Regions from separate parts of the Homo sapiens genome. Here region 2 is linked to region 1. The links come from fine-mapping of genetic effects on gene expression. A gene starts in region 1. The other region holds a variant in brackets. All regions are shown on one strand. Distances are between the middles of the regions. Region 1 holds the start of CHST13 (carbohydrate sulfotransferase 13). Region 2 overlaps C3orf22 (chromosome 3 open reading frame 22).

Region 1 (4,385 bases):
AATACACAAAATTGTGAGCAAAATTTAAATGGTTGTCTTAAGCGGCCAAATTTTAGGGCAGTTTGTTACCTAGCAACAGCAACTGGAACATCACCTCAGGGCCTTTGCAATGGTACCTGCTGGCTTCTGCTCCCTGGAGTCACATCTCTGCTCCAATGCCACCTCCCCCAGGCCTGCCCCGGCACCCTCCTTGCACCGGACACACTTTTCATCCTGGTACCCGCTGTGTTTTCTTCACAGCAGCATTCACCGCTCTATCTCTCTATCCTGATTTTCCGTGCTTCCAATCTGTAATGGAAATGCTGTGAGGGCAGACACTGCATGGGTCTCACCCTCTCCACCCAGGCCTCAGCACGGAGTGGGTGTTCTGTATCTGTCGAATGAATGAATGAATGCGAGTCCCTGGGAGAGGGCGTCTTCGCAGGGAAGCTCCCTAGGCCCCGGGCGTCTAGCCAGGCATCTGCACCCTCCCACCCCAAGACCCAAGACCATCTCTTCCTTTCTCCAGGGACCCCATTTCCAGGGACATCTCCGGATGAAGGGCTGAGATGTTATTCCCAACTTTGGCCACCAGGTGGCAGCATATAAGGGCAAAGCGCGCTGAGGATTCCAGGCTGGCAGTGAGGCCAGGGAATGCCGGTCTGGGGAAATTTGGAAGGCACCTTTGGATGCGAGTTAGGTCCGGCAGGGAATGCAGATGACCTGGAATCCCTGGGTCCTGGGCCAGTCTGGGGGTGGGCTAGAGGTTCCCCAAGGCCAGAAAAGTCATGATAAGAAGCTTCTAGCTTACTGTGAGTCTGGACTCCCACCCCTGTCCTTTGAGAACATCATCACCATTTAAAGCTGTATCTCAAAACCAGCAGAACTATTATTTGCTTAATATTCTTCCTTAAATAGATCTTCCACAACTTAAATAAATATAGTAGGGAGAAATTTTTATTTCACCACTTTAACAGAAACCAGCCACTTGCCAGAAACAGGCAGTAACCATAAACAAATTAATTACTAATATCAAATACTTACCTGGCACTCACTGAGTGCCAGACACTGTTGCAAACATTTCCTGTATCTCATTTAATCTTCACAGCACTGAGGTTTAGGATTATCCCCCCGTACAGGAAAATGGGAAACAGAGAGGTGCAGTTAATTTCCTAATCTCCCACAGCAGTAAGCGGCACCAGGTGGGTTTGGAGTCACCACATTTTTCAAGAACAGTTTAACAACTGGAGCTTCGAGTGTGGAATAATAGACACTGGAGACTTGGAAGGGTAGGAGAGTGAGCGAGGTGGGAGGGATGAGGAATTACTTAATGGGTACAATGGACATTATTTAGGTGATGGTTACACGGAAAGCCCAGACCTCACCACTGCATATCTCCATGTAACAAACCTGCACTTGTGTCCCTTACATTTATACAAAAAACTCCAAAAAAAACCTACAGTGTAATGTAGTACCCTATCCCATGCACTCACACTGCTAAATGTTGTTTCCAACGCACTCATCCGCGCACCCAGTGCCAGCTGCACCCTCCCGTTCCCTGCTAGCCTGACTTCTGGGCAGCAAGACCCTGCGGTTAGACGTGGGCTCCTGCCCACAGGGCTAGCTGGATGTGTGTGTCTTTCAAAGGCTGGACTTTACTCTCACCTCGCCCCCTCCACCCCCCAACACACACACACACACACACACACACACACACACACACAGTCCCTGGCAAGTCCTCAGAGCTCACGTGGTGCCCAGAGAAGTTGTGGGTGACACGATGAGGCACAAGCTCCATTCCCCGGGGGATGTAAGCTGAGACCCTACCTCTCTGTGCAAAGGCTAGTGCCACCTGCATGAGCTAGATTCAGGCAGGACCTGGAGACCCTGGAGGAAAGCAAGGCTGCAGGGTAGCCTTGGGTCGGGGAGGGAGGGACACTCTTAGGCCTCTTACTGAGGGCGGGGGTCCCGGAGAGCCATGGACAGGGCAACGCTCTACTAGGCTCCTTGGTTCATCCCAGATCAGCCCTTGGGCCCCTGGCATCTAAGGCAGCAAAAAGGCAAGGGGACACCGCCCGGGGTGGGGCACGCCACCGCGACAATGCCTCTTGGCCTTGGGTGGATAATGGCACCCCTGGGCAAACCCTAGGGGCGGGGCCCAGAGGCGAGGGGCTTCCCCAATCAGTCTCCGCCCTAGCGCCCTGGACTTCGGCCCCATTCCATTGGGTGAGGGTGGGGGCACGAAAAGAGGAGCGGGCTTGCGGCCCCACCGTGTCCCGCCTCCTCAGTCCCCAGCGACTCGCAGGGGCTGGTGGGGCTGGGGTCCAGCTGCCGTGCTCCCCTGCCCTGCGCCGCGCCGCGCGTCTTGGTAGGCGCTGCGCTGCCGGGGCCGGGTCCTGGGCCAGTGCAACTCCGCCCCCAGCCGTATCCAGCGGACTGTCCTCCGCCGCGCGCCCGGCACAGCATGGGGAGGCGCTGCTGCCGGCGGCGCGTGCTGGCGGCCGCCTGTCTGGGCGCCGCGCTCCTGCTCCTATGCGCCGCGCCCCGCTCCCTGCGCCCGGGTGAGTGCCCGCCGGCCGAGCCGCGCACCCCCAACCAAACCTGGCTCCTCGCGCTTTCCACCGCGGCCTGACCCCTCGACAGCGCGGGGGACACCTGTTGTCTCCTTCCTGGCTGGGGCTAGGGGTGGCGGGCAGGGGCGCTGGTGAGGCACAGAAAGGCTCTAGACGCCCCCGCGAGCAAAGGCTCTTGCTCCTCCTCCGGAGTTACCTCCCCACTCCCAGAGCGGTGACTGTTTTGAGTCCCACAGCCGGTGCCTGGAGACCGGGGTCAGTTGTGGGGGGTAGAGGACAATTGGCCAATCCGGGAAGGCCATCTCCCTTACCTTCACCCCCTTCCCCTGCGCACCCCACGGCCCCTGGACATGAGCGCTGCTGGGCGCATGCGCATAGGAGGGGAAGCTTGGGCCACTCGGTCCGGTCCCTTGGTTGTCCTACTGTGCAGTGGGTGCCACTCCCTGCTCCACCCTGAAATCCACACTGGGTAGGGCTTGGGACTCCTGTGCACCCACTCGTGGTCTGGCTGGGGAAACTGAGGCAGTTAGTCATGACTCCGCAGAGCTGAGTGCCCTGGGCTCCACCGGTGCTGAGTCTTTGCTCTGAGTCTCTCCTCAGCTCATGTGAAGCCTCCCATCAACCCATTTCACACAATCTGAAGCGGGCCAGAGAGTGGGGAGACAGGTGTGGTGGCAACGTGCTGGCTATACAATCTACTTGGGACTGGAGGGGCCCAGCCAGCGCCCGGGTCTCCTGACCTCAGGGCTGTTTGCCTTTCCTTGTATGTGGTATGCGTGCTGGGTGGGACGACTCAGTCCGCCTCCCCACCCCCAGTGTGGGCTCTGAGAATCCTGGGCCCCACCCTTGGAACCTGGCAGACACAGTCCCAGGGAGTAAGTAACTAGGTCCAGGGTGGGCGGGGATGTTGGGCAGTGGGGGTGGGAGTGGCCCAAGACTTGAGGATATCAGGGCCTGGGGAGGCCTCTGCCCACTCCCCCTGACCCTCACACTGCCCCTTGCCCCTTGTGTGTCCAGACACAGCAGGTCAGACCTGGATGCCTCCCCAAGCCCATGGGATAGGGCTGGGGTGTCTCTTTCCAGCACCCCCACAACCCCTTCTGTGAGCTGTCTGGTGGTGTTGAGCAGACAATCTCCTGGCAGTCTGGGGTGTGGACTCAGTGTCTGTGGCTGCCACAGCCTCTGTCCACCGAGTCATTCAGTAGACAGATGTTTACCCAGTACTAAGACAGGGCAGAACTTGGTGGCTACTGGCCCCTCAGGGCTCAGCGTGGGATGTTAGAGGACACCTGAGTGCCTGGGTCCCGGGGAGTGTCTGCAAAGGAGCATACATCTTTGAGTGACTGCATGGAGTGTCTGCGTCCCCATGTCTCCGTGGGACACCTCTCTCCTGTCACCTACTCTACCCAGGTTTGAGGGATGAGAAACAAACCAAGGTACTAGTCACCTTCTGGGCTTTGTTCCTTCTGACCTCCCTCCCTCTCCTGCAGAGCCTGGGAAGAGACAGCAGGTGTTAGGAGGACGGCTCCGAACCTCCCTTCCCAGCCTCTGCGCAGGCTGGGCTCTCCACCTGGCCTGTCCTGCTCTTGGCCATGACCTCACCCAGCATCTCAGCATCTCTCTCTGTTTCTGTCAAGCGCTCTTGTACCTCTCCCATGGCCTGTCTCCAGCCATCACAGCTTTGTGAGTGACCTTGGGCGAGCAAGAGTTAATCAGACCAACCTATCCAGCCTCTCACACTGGCTTTTCTCTCTCCCAAGCCCTGAGCTGAAGCTTTGGCTGAGACTATGCTTGTGGGCCTGCAGGTGGCACACAGGGAGGGCACTCAGCTGG
Region 2 (4,385 bases), 24 kb after region 1:
CACTTGGAGCCCAGGACCCTTCTCTTTTGTTGCTCCCTAGTCCCTAGGGCCTGGCCCTTTTCCATGAGAGTGAGCCATTCACTTTTCAAGTATCCCAATGTCAAAGGGAAAAGAAGGGCACCCAAGCTGGCTTTAAAGACACAAACTGGACAGTCCATTCCATTTCCAGTGCAATGCCATTGGCCTGAACCTAGCCCACTGTATTCCCAGTGGCAAGGGAGTCTGGGAACTGACAGCCAGTTTTAGGTCGGGTGCCTCAATGCGCTCCCTAGCATCTGCAACCCTCCCGCAGTCTCCCTCTGACCACCAGGCCTCTTGGCCTGGGCACAAGAAGGCTGGGTGTGCAGGAGTTAGTGCCCCCTGGAAGCAGTCCTCACCTACATCTGTTGGAAGTCGGGCGATAAATGCTCCAGCTTTTATCCCTGCATGAAGGACATTGAGACACAATCTGCATGGTGCCCCAGATTTCCCCACGGGGACTGGGCACCAAATGCCCTCAGTGGCTGCTGTGGACTGAATTATGTTCTCCCCAGTCTTATGTGGAAGCCCTCACCCACAATGTGATGCTATTTGGCGATGGGGCCTTTGGGAGGTGATCAGGTTGAGATGAGGTCATGAGGATGCGGTCTCCATGGTGGGATTAGTGTCCTCATAAGCAGAGCCACTGGAGAGTTCTCTCTCTCTCCCTCCCCGCCTCTCCCTCTCACACAGGGAGAAAGCAGCCATCTACAAGCCCAGAAGAGAGAAGAGAGCCCCCATCAGGGAACCAAGGCAGCTAGCACTTTCACCTTGGACGTCCAGCCTTCCTTGGAACTGGGAGAAAATGAACATTGTTTAACTCCCCCCAGCCTGTGGTGTTTGCTACGGTGGTCCCAGCAGACTAAGCCGTGGTTGCCAGCTCAAGGGTACATTCCTTGTCTGGTTCCGTCCCTTCCCTGTCTCCTCCCTACTTCTCTATGGGCTAACTGGGATTGCCTCTCACAAAAACTACTCACACTCCATCCTTGCCTCCAGAGCTGGTTCTGCGGGACTGAGGCAAAGAGGGAATCAACCATAAATCCATGATGACATGCTGCTTTTGTTCCACTGGTCTTAAATGCTAGGTTAGTTTGGATCCTTTTCTGTGGCAGTGCCGACATGAATGTTGTTGCATACCCTCCTCCTGCATAGGTGTGAGTGTGACTGCAGGATAAACTCCTGGGAGAGGGTCCACACTCCCCAATGCACCTCCACCGTGCCTCATCCTTTCTACCTGTGGATCTGTGTTTGACTGTAACTGCTCACAGCTTAAGGGCACATGGGGACCCAGATGGCCTCAGAGATGCAGGGCACAGGGCCCATGTTGCTATCTGGGCCACTGTGTGAGCATTTCTAAAGTTTATGGAGTAGCTGTGCTTAGAGAGTATTGCTGCACCATCTCTCTCCTGTCAAACATTTCAGCTGTCACCCGCTCCTCTGCAAGGGCTTCCATGCGGTGCAGCTTCCTGGGGGCTCATTTTCTTCTTTGCAGGAATAACATGCACATAAACCTAAACTCAGTGCACAAGGCAGGGGCTGCAAACACATCCCAGCTGCCCTCAGATTCTTCCTTTAAACGCCCAGGAGAGGAGGCACGAATTACAGACCATGTATGTTTTTATAATTGACTCTGGATTCAGGTAATGAGTTACCAACTTTTTCTACAAACCACCACCAGCTTTGCTATCATGAGTGGAAGAGCAGGCAGCCAGCGACCCCTCCTGCTCCAGTCCCAAAAGCTCTGGGCCCTGCCTATAGTGCAGGTGTGGACCAGAGGGAACCTGGAGAGGCTGGGAACTCTCTGGAAATTGTTCTGGCAAGAGCTGATAAAGGAGGTGCTCAGGAGCCCTCCAACCAACCAACCAGCAAATCCTATCATGGGTTGGGGAGGGGAGACAGTACACCCCAGGGGACAGGGACAGGAATGCCTAGAGCAGCAGCACCCACAGTAGCACAAAGTGGAAACAACCCAGACATCTACCCAAAAGAGAATGGACACATCATGGAATGAGAAACAGTGGAAAATGAAGGAACTACAGCAGTAGCATCATCATCACATGACTCTTAGCAACTTGCTGTGGAGGGGAAAAAGTTGCAGAGTTTGACACAGTCTTATATAATTGAAAAAAGCAAACAATGTGTTATTTCAAGGAGTGCAGTGGTGCGATCTCAGCTCACTGCAACCTCCACCTCTTGGGTTCAAGCCATTCTCCTGCCTCAGCCTCCTGAGTAGCTGGCATCACAGGCGTATGCCACCATGCCCAGCTAATTTTTGTATTTTTAGTAGAGACGGGGTTTCACCATGTTGCCCAGGCTGGTCTCGAACTCCTGGGCTCAAGTGATCCACCTGCCTTCAGCCTCCCAAAGTGTTGGGATTACAGTCGTAAGCCACCATGTCTGGCCAAATTATAACATTTTTTAAGTGGGGAGAAAGATGTGGTGACCTGATGGGCAGGGTACGAGGGACTCAGGGTGTGGTGAAGTGGGGGAAGGAG[C/A]ACCCAGCAGGGATAAGAGTGGGTCTCGTGTCCCTGGTTATGCTGCATGGTAAACATGCGTTGCTGTATTTTGCTTATATCAAACAGTGCATAGCTTAAACCTCAGAGACAACCTCCTCGAAGCTTATACAGTCCAAATGAAGATCAGCCTGGCTCCCACCCTCACAGGAAGGGACCCCAGGGATCTTTGCTTCCTGCAGGTCTGTGGGTGCTGCTGGAAGCTGTACTCTATCCCCAGGCAAATGCTGTGAGTCCCCTGCCTGGACCTGGGGTCCCACCTGGGGAGGGAGCCTGGAGTCTTGGCTGGGGCGGCACAGTGCAGCCCGGTCACCCTTCCCCAAACACCACAGATGTGACTCCAGGGTCTGCTTCGTGCAGGTTGGGAACCCACCCCTGTCCTGCCCCCAGGGCCTGGGAAGCCAACCCCCTTCAATCTTTTCATCACAAGGGTCCTCACTTCACTTCCTTTCTGAGACAATAAAGCCACTTGCCCACCTGGGGAGAAGACAATAAAGCCACATCCCACTCCAGGGAGAAGGCTGCAAAGTGTCCTGATTTTATTCACCCTCCCAAGGAACTCCAAGGTGACTTTCTAGCCCCTGTATTTGTAGAACACAGTGGGGGGACCCTTAAATCTTCAGCAGGCACCCCGCTGCCCAGTGCTGCTGTCTTGCTTTACAAAGGCATCACCAGCCTCCAGCAGCCACACCACGCTCCTTACATTACTGATGTTGTAATACAGGAATATGGCATTAGGCTCATGTATGACAACCCACAAAATGGTGTGCCTCACTCTCGGTCCTGTCCCCAGGTCCCCCATTCTCCTCCTCAAAGGTAATGATTGCTGCCTGCTCCTCATCCACGCCCCCCCCCCCACACACACACATACACACACCGTTTTTAGTAAACACAAGATGGCAGCATATCAGACACACTCTTCTGCTGTGCTTTTTAACAAAAATTGTAACAGACCTGTACATCATTCAGATCAGTCTATAAAGAGCTGCCTCTACATTTGAATGGCTGCCTAAGATTTCCGGGAGTAGTTGTATAATTTAGCAGTTTCCTGTGAGTGTTTAGCAAACAGTTTAGCTGCTTTCCAATCCTTTGCTGTTTCCAGCAGCACTGGAGTGAACAGCATTTACTTACCTGTGTGAGTGTACATTTGGGATAAAGTCCTAGAAGTGACATTCATGCTCTTTTTAATCCTCACACCAACCCTGCAAGATTAAACATTATTACAACAATTTTAGAGATGAGAAAATGAAGGCTCAGGGAGGCAAAGTGATCATTCCAGCTGGAAGTGGGGTGGGAACTCGCAGTTTATTAGCTTGGTGTAGCTTTTTGGGGGGACCACAAACCACTCCCGGTCTATGATGGCCATGAAGGCTGATCCCTTTACTAAAGTCTCTGTGGCTACTGCCCAGAGCCTGCCAAGGAGAAGGTGGCCAATAAGAAGGCCACACACAGAGCCCAGTCTCTAGGAGAGGCCCCTGGACAGCCCTGCCGCCTTGCTGGTCTGGGGGCAGGCAGCCTCAGTGTGCCGGGTGGACAGCAGGAAGGCGAGTTGTCTGGGGAAGCGGCGACTCAGCAACTTGAGTTCCCAAAGGTTGCACAGTGGAGGTGGTGATGGTGCTGGTAGTGGTGCCGGGCAGGAGCCAGACGGTGATGTAAAATCTGGAGCCCCGAGCCTAGAGAAGCCACACAGAGCCACGCCTGGCCTTCAGGACCCCTGCTGGCTGCAGCCATTGCAGCCCAGAGAAGTCAGCCAGGGCCACATCTGGGAGGGCTCCAACTGAGATCTACTCCCAACCAGGCTTGACCTGGCCCCTTCCACACAGAGGCTCTGCCACCTGATGTCCCAGGAAGCCA

The links. PIP is the estimated chance that this variant, and not a neighbour inherited with it, causes the effect.
Region 2: its variant is fine-mapped to the expression of CHST13 in whole blood (INTERVAL, PIP 0.95).

Annotation. Positions count from the first base shown.
Region 1 is chr3:126,521,890-126,526,274 of GRCh38, forward strand. CHST13 (carbohydrate sulfotransferase 13) reads left to right here and starts at 2,266. Exons shown (of 3, transcript NM_152889.3): 1 at 2,266-2,540. The coding sequence starts at 2,444. RefSeq lists enhancers at 1,590-2,090, 2,091-2,591, 2,652-3,152, 3,153-3,653.
Region 2 is chr3:126,545,875-126,550,259 of GRCh38, forward strand. C3orf22 (chromosome 3 open reading frame 22) reads right to left here. Exons shown (of 4, transcript NM_152533.3): 4 at 3,818-4,204. The coding sequence ends at 3,994. Among named protein-coding and RNA genes, the nearest start is that of C3orf22, 11 kb to the right of the region's middle. RefSeq lists enhancers at 3,198-4,079, 4,080-4,385. The variant C/A (reference allele first, on the strand shown) is at 2,514.